4 linked regions of the Homo sapiens genome follow. The protein of the gene in region 4 purifies or fractionates together with the protein of the main gene of each other region. This does not show direct contact. Each region holds a gene or a part of one and is shown on either strand. Other genes may lie near its edges.

Region 1 (3,639 bases), on a different chromosome or scaffold from region 4:
GGATCCACCCGCCCGAAAGCTCCGCCCCCAGTACTGCAGCCTTAATAGTCCTGTAATCGGACCAATTTTTATCCGCACTGGGCCACAATACAGGCTCGTATTTAAGGGAGCCAAGATCCAACAGGTTTCACCACTGTAGCATATTTAGACTACCCTCTAAGAGGAACTCTATGCGAACAGCATAACTTCAACAAACAAAGTAGGCTCCCAACAATGTGTGAAAAACTGAAGCAGGGTAAACATTTCAGTGAGGGTCAGTATGGCACTGATTCACTTTACAAAAAGATGCAAACTGCGCAAGTACAAAAACCTCTTTGAGTCCTTTATTAACGTCTGGAGATGTGTGGTACATACAATTAACAGCATCACACCAGCTACAGAAGTACAGATAACCAAGAATGTACTTCAGAACAAGGATCTGAGAGCAACTTATGGTGTTGCCTGCTCTGAACCTCCACAAAAACCCAGTTCTGACACACGCAAGACAGACGATATAACAATTTCACTTGGGAATGGTTTTTTTTAAAAAATGACAAGAACTAATAGTTCAAACCCTTTAGAGTGTGAGATGTGGCAGCTCGCTTGGTGCCGTGGCACTGCTGTAAAAGGCCAACATGGGCATTTGAAGGTCAGGCAGAAGAACCGAATGGGGTGGGTGGAAGAGGTTTTATTTTCAGTGTAGAGAGATAACAGATGGTCCGAGTGGATACTTTCAGTCCAGGCTCAGTATGGGGCCTGCAGGAATCCACTAGATAAATACAGTCTATAAACCGGAAGGCTGAAAAACACCAGCCAGCCATCCTTGTCATTGCTTCCAACTGGTGGACACTGATGCATCCGGAGTCACTTATGACACAGATCAGGTTTAACAGGGGTGCACCCGAACGCAAGAAGGCAGCTCACTATGTCCAGTCAGCTCTGATCCTTTCACGCCCTTGGATGTCATGGGTTCCTCTGCTTTCACACGGGAACTAAGGAACACTTCCTTTATTTCAATGTTCCACTTTGGAAAAAACCAAAACCCTCCCCCCACCCCCACCATCATTCTTCATAAATTTGCTTCCAATCTCCTGATTGTTCTGGGTCTAGACTTTTTCCTTTCGCTTCAATTTGGACACTTTTTTGACAGTCCCGTTCTTGTTAAGCAGCTTCAGGACACGGTCTTTATGATCTAAAACCTTAAGCATGGAGTCTCTGGCTTCACTGATTTGATCCATCACAAGTTTACACCTCTGCATATTTCCCTGAAACAGAAGACATTGCATCATCAATCAGTGACCATGAGGATAGTACAGCTTTTAAAAAACTGCTTGCCTTTGGGCAGAGGCCATGTTGAGGCTTCCACAACAGAGAAAATGTCTTTTTGTTTCTCAGGAGTGCAGGCTGAAGCACGTATGTTTTTACTGAAGATATGAGGGAGACGGGGGGAAACGGGAGAAGTAGGGCTTTACAGAAAGCAACTTCATAAAGTAGATGATCAGAAGGGAAGGGGCGCACTCAAACCTGTATCAGTTCGTTTATTCGGTGGAGATCATCATCTGTTGCTGCTTTTTTCTTTGGGATAATCCCTTCCTGCAGGTTAGTAAGTCTTTCATAGACATCATGTTCTAGATTCGTCTGCAACACACAAAAGGGAGGGTATCATAAGCTCGGAAATATTTTTCTATGTCAACCCCAGGCAAATGAACCCACCTTCAATCACCTTTGTAAACTGTCTAAGAGTTGTTTGGGTGACAACGTCCTTTCTCCTAAGGACTAAGATACTAAGGTTTAAAAACAGTAAAGGGGCTGGGCGCGGTGGCTCACGCCTATAATCCCAGCACTTTGGGAGGTCGAGGCGGGTGGATCACCTGAGGTCCAGAGTTTGAGACCAGCCTGACCAACAAGGTGAAACGCCATCTCTATTAAAAATACAAAATTAGCTGGGCGTGGTGGCGCATGCCTGCAATCCCAGTTACTCGGGAGGCTGAGGCAGGAGAATCGCTTGAACCCGGGAGGCAGAGGTTGCAGTGAGCTGAGATCCCGCCATTGCACTCCAGCCTGGGCAACAAGAGCGAAATTCCATCTAAAAAATAAATAAATAAATAAATAAATAAAATAAAAACAGTAAAGGAAACTGATCAACAAAGATTTACATTATAATTTGCCATAGTTCAGAGCCTATCTTCAAGGATAACTTTTGAATACTGCCTTGAATCCACAATTCTTCTGAAACACAAGTCTCCAAGTTTCATAGAAGTGATTTCTGCTAAGTCAGAAGTAGCCAAGGCACTACATTTTTTTAGATACTGACAACAGACAATGTTCTTCAGGTCACTGCTACTGAAGAGGAAAAACTTTATGAGGTTGTTGCCTCCTCTTCACCTGCTGGTGAAGGAGGGATTCTTGCCCTAGGGTTATAGAAATGGCCAAACATATAAGATCCAACACTGGATGGATAAGATTAACAGCAGTTTATGAGTCACAAATACAGTCATGCTCTGCTTAATGACAGGGATACGTTCTGAGAAATGTCTTTAGGAAATTTTATTGTTGTGTGACCATCACAGAATGTACTTACACAAACCTAGATGTTATGAACTACCACATATTTAGACTATATGATAGAGCCTACTGCTCCTAGGCTACAAACATGTACACCATGTTACTGCAAGGAATAGTGCGGGAAACTGAAACACAGTGTTAAGTATTTGTGTATCTAAACGTATCTATACATAGAAAAGGTACAGCAAAAATACGGCATGACAGATTAAAAATGGTAAAGAGCACTTACATGAATGCAGTCTACCAGGACTGTTAAGTTGCTCTGTGTGAGTCAGTGGGTGAGCAGGGAGTGAATGTGAAGGTCTAAGACATCACTGTACACTACTGTAGGCTTTATAAGCACTGTGCCCTTAGGCTACACTAAATCTATTAAAAATATTCTTCTTTCTTCAATAACAAATTAACCGTAGCATACTCTTTTTACTTTATAAACTTTTAAATTGTTTTAAACTTTTTGACTCCTTTGCAATAAAACTTAGCTTAAAACACATATTGTTGGACAAATGTGGATACTGTTGGGCGGTTACAAAAAATATTTTCTTTCTTTGTATCTTTATTCTATAAACTTTGTTTTCTTCCTTTTTTTTGAGAGTGTCTTACTCTGTTATCCAGGATGGAGTGCAGTGGTGCGATCATGGCTAAGGGCAGCCTTGGTCTTCCGGGCTCAAGAGTTCCTCCCACCTCAGCTTCCCAGGTAGCTGGGACTAGGGGGTGTGCACCACTACACCCGGCTAATTAAAACACTTTTTTTTGTAGAGACAGGGTCCCACTATGTTGTCCAGGTGGGCCTCAAACTCCTGGGCCCAAGCAATCCTCTTGCCCCAGCCTTCCAAAGTACTGGGATCACAGGCCTGAGCCACTGAACCTGGCCCCTTATGTTCTATTAAAAAAAAATTTTAACTTTTTATACTTGTTAAAAATTAAGACACAGTACAGCCTGGGCAACATAGTGAGACCCTGTCTCTACAATTTTTTTTTTCCCCGAGAGGGAGTTTTGCTCTTTCGCCCAGGCTTGAGTGCAGTGGCATGATCTCTGCTCACTGCAACCTCCACCTTCTGGTTTCAAGCAATTCTCCTACCTCAGCCTCCCGAGTA
Region 2 (3,639 bases), on a different chromosome or scaffold from region 4:
TCTTTTAAAACCAGCATATTGCCATCTACTGCTGATAAAGTATATTCCAGATTTGCATCAAATGGATTTATGTAGTTCAAGTGTTTATGGTAGATGCTAGTAGAAAAAGTAGTGAGAACTTCTAGATAGGAACCTCTAATTTTTGTTAAACACAAAGCTTCAATTACATCCTGCTGGGACACCACTTGACTTTTTGGTTGTACAGGAATGGGCCAGGCCCTATAAAAACACATATTTATCTGTCATTTTCCTTCCAGGTTACTTAAAAATATAAAACACACAATAACTTGACATGCCCTAAAACAAAAAGGGATAATCTAATCTACAACCATAAATTGAAACATGTTCCAGTTTATTTTTTCTCAAAAACAATAACCATGATAATCAACATGTCCAGCATACACAAGTGCACAATATTTCTGTTTTGGATATTTCCTGAAATATAGTTATCAGGAGTCAGAAGAAATGGTTACACTATTGAGTTGATGTCCTGCCCTACAGTAGAAGTATATTTATGATAATGTAAGAAGAGAAATAGTTATCCCTGCATTACGCTACTTTCTAATGTAAAAATAAAGTGATGTTTCCCAATCTCATCTCATGATAAAAAAGCTTATGTTCATAATAATTGTAAAGCACTATGAAATAGATGTTCTGGAGATGTTATATGTCATTCATTAGCATTCTTATATAATAGTCAAATACATTAAAGCAAAAACATAAAAGCATGCAACTAAAATAAATCATGTACAGCTATGAGAATGAGTAGAGAAATGCATTATTTCTATTTAAGGAGAATATTGGGAGAATAATTGAATATATTACTTAGTATAATTAGATATTATATTAGATAAATTTTGTTTAAAAAGCAGGTGGGGAAAAGGTATGGACTTTCAAATATACAATGGTATTTACTTACAATCAAGCCACTGTTTGCTTGCCTTTTTTCTCTGCCATGGATCCTTTTGTAGAAAATTCCGCCTGGATTAAACTGAGTACTCCAAATAATCATATCTCTTTGATAATATACATCCATCCCTGTTATTCTTGAATTATGTTCAATATGAGAAATTTGTTGATGATCGCCACTGTAGTTGAATGGATATATAAAACCCAGGATATCAGTGTCATTAGCAATGTAGAGAACTTGATCTTCAGAGCCTGGAGATTATTATAATAAAATACAAAAATAAAGTAAATTTCAACTAATGTTAAAAGCAATAATTGTACTTTTAAATTATCTTGAATTATTATTCTTAATACAGTTTTTCCTCAAAAATCAACCAGTTTTATATTGTCTTTTAGTCTTTATGGCTTATTATTTCTGATACTCACTTATCTAAACATTTACAATAATTATTGATAGAGGTTTTTCTACTGCCAATCTTTCCTTATGGCTAGAAATTATGTACATATAAATGTCCTTTTATGAAGAGAGATTATTATTTGATAAGTCACAATACACTAGGTTATAATGCATCAATTGTCAATATCCAAGTACTATGTTGTATACTCATTAAGCTTCAAAAGTTTCTGATTACTTAATTTATGCACCTGAGTGATCATTACTTTAGGCTAAGAAATAAAAATTAAAATATGAAGAATCTTCCTCTTACTGTATTTATACATCTTAAATGCTTACTAACTTTTAACATAAAAAGATATCAGTATTTATTCCATTAAAGTTCTATAATCTCTAAATTATCTAGAATCCTGCTAAGTGTAACATTCTATTCTAAAGTTTTGACACCTACAATAGAGTACTAATGTCATTTTCATACTAACAAGTAAAACCCTAAAGCAAATGCCAAAATTATCAATTAAAATATTAACGAAGCCCTAAAGAGATGTTCGATTGCATACATAGTTTCTGCAAATAAATAATAATAATAATACCTCATGAGGTGCCTTTCAGCTCTGTAATGTTAATAGCTGTCACTTAGCAAATGCTTATTATGTGTCAGACGCTATGTTAAGCCTTTCACAGTTTATCTCCACTTCTTATAACTATGGAAACTGAACTGAGGCTCTGACACTTTAGTGAATTCCTTGAGGCCACACAGTCTAAAAGGTGCTGTGCTGGGATTCAAATCCAAGCATATCAAATGCTATAGCCCACAGTTGATCCATTACATCATCCTGTTTTCTTCTTGTAATAACAATCTTAATAATGTCCAATCATACTTTGTAGCCAACAATATTGAAGTTACAGTATTATTTAGCATAAACACATGAATATTAAAATCTATACCTACAATTGCCCAGAACCCTAGTTTATCATTTAATCTTTTTTTGTTTGTTTGTTTTTCTTTTTTTGAGATGGAGTCTTGCTCTGTCACCCAGGCTGGAGTTCAGTGGCGCAATCCTGGCTCACTGCAACCTCTGCCTCCTGGGTTGAAGCGATTCTCCTGCATCAGCCTCCCAAGTAGCTGGGACTACAGGTGTGTACCACCACGCCTGGCTAATTTTTGTAGTTTTAGTAGAGACGGGGTTTCACCATGTTGGTCAGGTTGTTCTTGAACTCCTGATCTCGTGATCCACTCGCCTTGGCCTCCCAAGGTGCTGGGATTACAGGCATGAGCCACTGCACCAGGCCTATCATTTAATCTTTTTAAAAAATAATATTGGTAAGTGGAGGACTTCTAAATTTGAAAGCAAGATCTTGTTTTAAAACCTTTAAAATCCTTACTCAAAATTCCTTTCTCCTTATAATGCTAATGTTTATTTTTATCCCTGGGGTATAATTTTTCTCATATTCCCTTAGAGCAGACCATCAAGAGAGATACTTCACATTCTATCACACTGGCTTTTAAAATTTTACCCCTTTTGAAAAATTGTTTTGAACACAATGACACAATGTGATTTTAACAGTAACCATATATTTCATAGTCATTTCCATAAACCATCTAAGATTAAATTCATTAATATTAACTAACCAACTGGCCAAATTAATCATCATTAAAAGTATTTTATCAGAAATGAAGCTGTTGCTGGAATGAAATATAAAACATTTTTCTCCATAAAATGTTTACAACAAAATTGTAATAGGATTTGCAATAGTGGTTATAATCTTACCTTCTGCTATGCAGGTGTTATTTCTTTCTTGAAAATTCTGGTCACACACACATTTATATGATCCTTCCACATTTATACATTGATGGGAACATGTGCCAAACACCAAACATTCATTAAGGTCTAGAAAAGAAGAGCTCAAAATAGCATCATCATACCCTCAATTCAGACTCCTATTCTTACCACGTTTCAAAAAAGCCAAAATTATTTTTAACTTATTACTAGCTTTATTGTCCTTTCACATCTTTAATCTGTGACCTGCTGTGTCATATTTTTGAAGGTATAATCATTTTTCACAATATTTGTAGTAGAAGATTTATCAATTGTCATTGCTTTTATTAATCCACTTAAAATATTAAAGCTTCAATTTCAAACTTCCCTGGGGCTTTCTTTTTTCTTTCTTAAAATTTTTACTTATTTATTTTTTTACCTTTTAAGTTCATGGATACAAGTGCAGGTTTGCTACCTAGATAAACTTGTGCCATGGGGGTTTGTTGTATAGATTTCCATTCACGCAAATAGACCTGTCTTGAGGTTTTCTTTTAAGCTGTTTCTGATGACCTACCT
Region 3 (3,639 bases), on a different chromosome or scaffold from region 4:
ATCACATGATGCAAATCCCTCTTCTTTGGAAATGGAAGAAAAACCTCTTCTTAACACCCACATGAGTAACCAGAGACACCTACAGACTAGCATCCACCCAGTAGAGAAGGTCCTCTTCATAGTCCAGAGTCAGCCCACTGGGCATGACCAGACTGCTGTTCACAATGGGTACGCGGAAGTTTCCTCCCAATGTGGCTCTCTCGATTTTGGCATGTGTATCCCAGTCAGCCCAGTACAGGTACCTAGTCATACAAAAGGAGTCAATAATTAATTCACAGGGAACCTCATAGTCCTTTAAAAAAAAAAAAAAGGACAATATTCTTTAATTGCAAATTGCCAGTAACATGGCAAAAGAAACTTCATTTCTACTTACACAACTTGTCCAAAGGAGATCTAGTAAGTCAGGGTGTTGACTTCCTAGTATGTTGCCAACCTTTCTGCCATCAAAGGGAGCTATGCGCTGCACCCTCCTTCCCACGTAAAATCACTCAATATGCTTTCATTTTTGAATCTGTAGCCATAGTTTTATAAGCCCATAACACATTGGCTATCTATGAACATAATTTCAGGCCCCATTTTTTCCAGAAATAAGCAGACAGAAATATAACAAGGAAGATGATGGCATACCCTTGGCAGGGATCTAACACAATTGCTCTTGGTTTTGGAACGCGGGCTATCACAGTGCGGTTAGACCCATCTTCAGCCATGGAATTAATCATCTGGTTGAGGTAGTCACTGTAATAAATTCTTCTAGTAATCCAGTCAAAGGCAATGCCATCAGCAGTCCCTATACCTGGACACATACAGGCAGACACACACACAAGCACACACAAAGACATTAGAGTCTCATATGCATTAGAAACACTCAGTCATCCATGTGTGTTGACCCCATTGTGTCTACTTGCAGGACAAGCAGCACCTGGAGTGCACTTACCTGAAGCAATGACAGTTGGAGTATGGATCCCTGAAGACAGGGTGGCATAGGAAATCTGTCCAACTCCAGAGGCTAAATTTTGTGTGAAGTAGATTCTATCACTTACACTGTCATAGTCTAGAGACATGACAGTTCTTTCCACATTTATTGTTTGGAAAGGTGGGCTATGGTTTTCAGGGTCCAAGTGTAAGCTTCTCAAGGAATTAGACAAGGCAAAGATGAGGAAATTTTCTGTTGAAATGGCACAATTCTTGCCATCACTTTGCAGGGTCCCAAAGGCACAGTCACATTTTGGGGTGTGCAATCCAGGCAGAGCAAAGCAGAGATGAGAGCACCCACCATTGTTTTCCAAGCAAGGGTTGTTGTTGACCTCTGCTGGTGACCGGGGCTGGACTTGCTTGTCAAAGATGGTCACATCTCTTAGCCAGTTGATATTGTCTCTTATCACTGTGGGTGGCTCTGTGTTCTCTGGTTCCTTGCTGGCTTGGAAGATCTTTTTCAAATTCCTATCTACCCATATGATAGAATTTTCAAAAACAGTGATGCCATAAGGAGTTGGGTAACGACTGCCATAACGAATCACTTCAGAGTTCTCTCCATTGATACGAATCCTTGCAATTATATCTAAAGAATCATCAACCCAATAAACGTAGCCATCACTTCGGTCCACTGCCAAGCCCCGTGGTGTGACAATGCCCTCTGACACAAGCACTGTTCGATTGGTACAGTCAAGGAAAGAACGCTCAATCTTTGGTCTCTGCCCATAGTCAGCCCAGAAGAGGTATCTGTTCTTGGGATCTACAACAATATGCCTAGGCATGTCCACTGTGACTTTAAGAAGAACACGGCGGTAAGTAGTATTGATCCGCAGAACTTCTATCAGTGTTTCAGAAACAAAGGCATTGGTGAAATAAAGATTTCCTATGGGAAAAATGAAAGTGCATGCTGATCAATGGAGAACCAAGAAGAAAAAAAGGGAGAACTTTACAAATTCAGAACAAAATATATAAGGTTGAAGTCTGGGTCACTATATGTTGTCTTTTCCAAGATGATAGTGTCCCAGTCTAGGCTTAGAAAAATAAGTTCTTACTCCTAGGAATTATAGAGATTGTGTCTTCAAATTTAGAGAGAAAGTGCCTATCTTCAGCTTCTAAAGTAGATTAGAATTCATAGCAACATCATAACCCACTTTCTACTGAAAGGTATATTTTCCAGAATGTCCCTCCTTTTCTATCTGAAGCTCTAAATGCTTAATACCTACTTGAAACACTCTAAATATACATTTTCATAGCACAACTTCCATCCCAATGTGATAAAAGTAGCAAAGAGGGAGCACCAGCAGCATCTCAGGTTGTTATTAATGTTATCAAATGGTCTTTGAACTTAAGGTTAACATGAAGTTTTTCCTTAGTCTTTCTAACTAATGTAGGTGTTTTCATCCCATGGACCTTCTAAAAGTGACCAAAAGTCCATTTCCCTTTGGGCCTTATGTACATGCTAGAATAAAAAGATAACTTTATGAAGATAGTATAATAAGTAGAGAATGACCACAAATTATTGATTTCATGTAGTTGAAAGTCTGTTGTTGAACTATCAATGCTACTACCAAGACACACATATTTTGTTCCTATATCTGATTCAAACCACCTCTAGAGAAATCAGGCCAATGTGAAATATGTTACTGATACATTTTTTCATTACCTAACTCTACTTGCTATGTATGCATTTGCTCATTTCCAATCCTTTAATCCAGGGTTGGCAAACTTTTTCTGTAAAGGGCCACATAATAAATATTTTAGGCTTTGCAGAGCATATGGTTTCACAAGTACTCAACACTGCCACTGTAACATGAAAGCAGCCATAGACAATACACAAATAAATGGGCATAGCTGTGTTACAATAAAACTTTATTTACAAAAACAGGCAACAGGCTGCATTTGACGCACGGGCCATAGTTTGCTGACTACTGCTTTATCTATACCCTCAGAAATAGTAATTTCTATTCAGGAACGGGAGTTAGGAACCCAATTAAAGCTTTATTTAACCATACTTCCATATTTACTTTTTGCAATAAACTCTTATTATAGTACTTAGATTTTCATAATACATGCTTATATTTCCTTTTTTTAAATTTTTTTTTAATTCGAGACAGAGTCTCAGTCTGTCACCCAGGCTTGATGGCAGTGGCTTAATCTCGGCCCACTGCAACCTCCACCTCCCGGCTTCAAGAGATTCTCCTGCCTCAGGCTCCTGAGTAGCTGGGATTACAGGCGTACGCCACCATGCCTGGTTAATTTTTGTGTTTTTAGTAGAGATGGGGTTTCACCATGTTGGTCAGGCTGGTCTCAAACTCTTGACCTCAGGTGATCCGCCTGCCTCAGCCTCCTAAAGTGCTGGGATTACAGGCATGAGCCACTGCGCCCTGCCTACATGCTAATATTTCTAAGTGATGCCTACTCACCAAGCTTGATTCAATGATACTGATTTTATGTAGAATTGGATTATATTCCAAAACATATAATACCACTAATTATGAGTGGTATTTTTACTCAGATGAGTGATAAAAATGAGGGGTTATTCAAGCTTATGTGCATGAATAAATACAACTAAGTTAATATAATACTGGACCAGGCATTTAAAAAAATTACTAATAAAATATCTCATGATCTAAGGGATTTTTATATATGAATAAAAGGAAGCAATTA
Region 4 (3,639 bases):
CAGTTAGACTAATTCAATTCTATGAAATGTGATACTTATCCACATACTCTCTTGATGTGAAATATGAAGCCATTTATCTATCTGTGTATCTATCTATCTATCCACCCATCCATTCATTTACTTATTTATTGAGACTGAGCATACTTTGGCCCTAAAGTGAAACTTCTTTAATATGAATTTTGTCTCTCTCAAGACCAAGTGACCTTGGACAAAACTGGGAATAAAAGCATAATTTTATATAGTCACAAAGTTATTGTGAATATATGTGAAGAATCAATGTTAGCTATTACTATTTTTAAAGAATCTGATCAGACATACATCCTCTGGATCCAGATTCCTTTATTAATTAACAACATAATGTTAGTTTACACTGTAAACTTCTCTAATGGTGTGAGGTCTTCTTCCCTTCACCTCCTGTGCAAGAGACTCACAGTAGGTCTACACCCAGAGGTCAGGAATAGGCATGAGAAAATGAGCCTGATTATGTTGTTTTATATGATTAAGTATATATTTCTAATTACCTTCTGCAATTATTTAATGTTTTTGCCACATCTTGTCTGTGATCCATTTCATCATTATTACTGAATTGTCTGCCTATAAATTCATTGATATTGGATGAAGCCAGGTTGGGGAATAAAATGCTGCATCTCCCTTTGGAGGAACCAATCACTCTACTACCATAAGACTGAGCCACAGAACATCTTGACTAAACCCAAAGCACAAAACTGGAATAGATATTTGCAACTGCATTACTAAATCATATCAAGTTTCTTTCTTTGGTTCTTTTACATGCATTCACTTATGTGTTTACTGAAATAGAACATCTTGCTATTTATACACAACACTTCAACATGGCAATATTCTAGATCAGTGTAGGTCATAAAATATAGAAAGTAGCCAGACTCTAGGAAAACTAAGATTTGGGGAGGTAATCCAGGTAATCTTACACTACCTAAACCAGTTCTACCAGGCTTCTTATATTTCAGGAGTCTGAGTAAGGAGACGATAGCCTGACTTGAGAGACAGGCTTATGATGATGAAAAGAAAGAGGCCCATTAACACTTAGTGAGATCTTTTACCATTATTGCAGCGGGTACTGGGGCAGCACATGCCATCTCGGTGGCAGCGCTTCTTTTTTCTCCGACACACCATGCAGGCCGATGATCCTTGGTGGGGACTGTGGCAATACCTCCCAACTTCACACTCCTTATCACTGCTACAAGGGTAGGCCTGTCATCAAGTGGAACAACACCAGAAGTAAAGGATTAGATCGTGTTTCACTTATGAAACATTACTATAGCAAATCATGATAGAAAATGAATCACAATATATCTCACCCGGAAGGAACTATACCATCATCATAATGTTCTGAACCTAGAGCCTAAGTAGTCACACTTAATTGAGGACCTTATAAATATCTATTGCTTGATGACAAAGATAAAGCTGACGCTGTTTGTATATTTTCATTGACACAACGCTAGAGTTAGAATTTAGACTTTTATTGATTCATAGGACCCTTATGTGTGACTTTGGGGTCTCAAGAGCAGTTGTAATTATTGCATTGATGCTATTGTAAGGTAAAAATGACACAGCCATCTTAGCCACTCGATTTTTTCACCTGTTAAAGAACGATGAGAGAAATGTTAAATAAAACAACAAAGGGCTATGCTAGAAGCCAAAATGTATCTCCTGCCCAATTATGAAACAAATATTTTAAAAGTGAACCCTTTCAGTTCCTGCCTATAAAAGCAAGGAGGAGAAACATTTCCAGAACAGTATGAGGCAGTGAATTATTTGGCACAAAGACACTAAGGAACAGGATCCTCATTCCAAACACGGTGATAAGCAGCAGTTGAGCTCCCAGCAGCCAGAGAGATGCTAAGCTCCAATTATATCATTATATTCCCAGGAAGCACAAAAGCAGACTCCTTACAGACCTGAAATAGCCCCACAGGCTACTACGCCTTCTATTGTAAAGAAAGAACCTCTGTTCATACATTTCTCTACCTAGGGGTATGTCCAGAAGGCTACTTCAGCAGTGTCATATATTATCTTAAAAAAAAATACATGTGAAATAATACAGAAGGTGGTCAGAGTTTAGGAAAATGAAGATTTCAGGGGTTATACATACATATATACCCATTTGTGCACCCCTTGCCTCTTGGAAGTATTTGGAACATTAAAAATGTCCCTGTGTTCAAAGACTGGAAGTTGAGAAACTAAAATGTCATAACCCACATCAAACTTACTCAGATTTTGAGGCAGGGAGACTCATTTGTAAACCTTTTTTTCTTTTTTGAAGTTGATATTTTTCTCATTTTCAGAGTAATAGATGATTTTTTAATTGAAAATACAAAATATAAAATAAGCTATGTATTTGTTTTTAAGCAACCATAAATAATTTGAACATAAACTATGGGATAAAATGGTTATGGCTCTCAAATACTTAGTGAGATTTCAGTGCTTTACTTATGAATTAGGTTTGATGGTATAGCTCGGCCTGCATTGCTCATGTCTTTTTTTCCTTTTATTTCTTTTACTCTTTCCCTTTCTTCCAGTGTCTTCTCCTCCTGCCCATCTCCTGCATATATGTCTACACATTGAGCCCTCACATGTTTTCCGTTTAGGTGATCAGATCATCTTCAGTTAGAAAAAGGAAATGTGAAGTTTATGTACGAGTCTGAGAGATAAAAAATGTATTTTAGCATCATTACAATTTCTTGTTTACCCTTTAAAGAATTATATAGAAAAACCACCAACTTCAAATTGAAAGTTATTTTGAAGGACTGCATAGTGGCAATGTTTGATGCATACTTTATAACTGGAGCCACACAAAGCTATAAAATAAATTTGCATTTCATTGTTCCACTCTGTAACTCCACCATTAGGCTTAAGAGAATCTTAGTGAGATGAAATTCAGACTATTAAGCCATTTTTCAAGAATCCAAGACTGATGAAAACAAAACAAATATCCCTTCCCGCCTTACCACACTCTTTCCCCCAAGCATTTTACCCCCTTCACATTTAAACCCATTAATTTTAATGAAATACAATTCACATGTTTCTGATTCATTTACATTTATTTCATCAAATTGTTTTGCAACAAACATTTGAAGTTACAAGTTTCTTTCCTTCCTCAAAAATAGGACATGCTCTTTCAATGGAAATAAACATGTGCCACATAAAACATCATGTGCTATTTACAACTCAAATAACAAGTCCTCAAGCCATTCTGAGTATAGGATAATCCTGGATTCCATCCCCCCAAAATAGTCCACAGGATACACTATTTTATTTATTAGCTGTTATTGATAGCTGTTTATTTTCTGGTTGTTTGGTAAAAGTAGCAGTGTCTGCCAAAAAATTGTGAATGGCGCATCACCATCTTTCCATTCTCAGTTGACAGGAACTGGAAAATATTAAAATGACAAATATCTGATGCAGATGACATTAAAAAAATGGGGTGCACAGTAGCCTTATATTTGAATGGGATTACAATAAAATTATAATAATTTAATTTTGAAAGAGGGAACCTCATTTGATCAAAAATAGAAAGTATATTAGAAAATACATAGTTTTATTATGCTCCAATATCTCTTTTAATTAACTTGAAGTAAAAATGACACAGGCAGAGAAAGT

The links. The genes of interacting proteins can lie anywhere in the genome.
Region 1: the proteins of DKK2 (region 4) and SAP130 purify together in Homo sapiens (affinity purification with mass spectrometry; one large-scale study listed by BioGRID and IntAct). This does not show direct contact.
Region 2: the proteins of DKK2 (region 4) and LRP1B purify together in Homo sapiens (affinity purification with mass spectrometry; one large-scale study listed by BioGRID and IntAct). This does not show direct contact.
Region 3: the proteins of DKK2 (region 4) and LRP2 purify together in Homo sapiens (affinity purification with mass spectrometry; one large-scale study listed by BioGRID and IntAct). This does not show direct contact.

What each region holds. Positions count from the first base shown.
Region 1 is NC_000002.12:127,940,921-127,944,559, forward strand, and holds the end of SAP130 (histone deacetylase complex subunit SAP130), read right to left. Parts: intron 1,618-3,639; coding exon 1,504-1,617; intron 1,245-1,503; coding exon 1,086-1,244; 3' UTR 302-1,085; downstream 1-301. UniProt on the Homo sapiens protein: Acts as a transcriptional repressor. May function in the assembly and/or enzymatic activity of the mSin3A corepressor complex or in mediating interactions between the complex and other regulatory complexes.
Region 2 is NC_000002.12:140,349,878-140,353,516, forward strand, and holds part of LRP1B (low-density lipoprotein receptor-related protein 1B precursor), read right to left. Parts: intron 3,196-3,639; coding exon 3,076-3,195; intron 1,162-3,075; coding exon 920-1,161; intron 1-919. UniProt on the Homo sapiens protein: Potential cell surface proteins that bind and internalize ligands in the process of receptor-mediated endocytosis.
Region 3 is NC_000002.12:169,205,396-169,209,034, forward strand, and holds part of LRP2 (low-density lipoprotein receptor-related protein 2 precursor), read right to left. Parts: intron 1,856-3,639; coding exon 935-1,855; intron 794-934; coding exon 628-793; intron 243-627; coding exon 84-242; intron 1-83. UniProt on the Homo sapiens protein: Multiligand endocytic receptor. Acts together with CUBN to mediate endocytosis of high-density lipoproteins. Mediates receptor-mediated uptake of polybasic drugs such as aprotinin, aminoglycosides and polymyxin B.
Region 4 is NC_000004.12:106,924,720-106,928,358, forward strand, and holds part of DKK2 (dickkopf-related protein 2 precursor), read right to left. Parts: intron 1,231-3,639; coding exon 1,080-1,230; intron 1-1,079. UniProt on the Homo sapiens protein: Antagonizes canonical Wnt signaling by inhibiting LRP5/6 interaction with Wnt and by forming a ternary complex with the transmembrane protein KREMEN that promotes internalization of LRP5/6.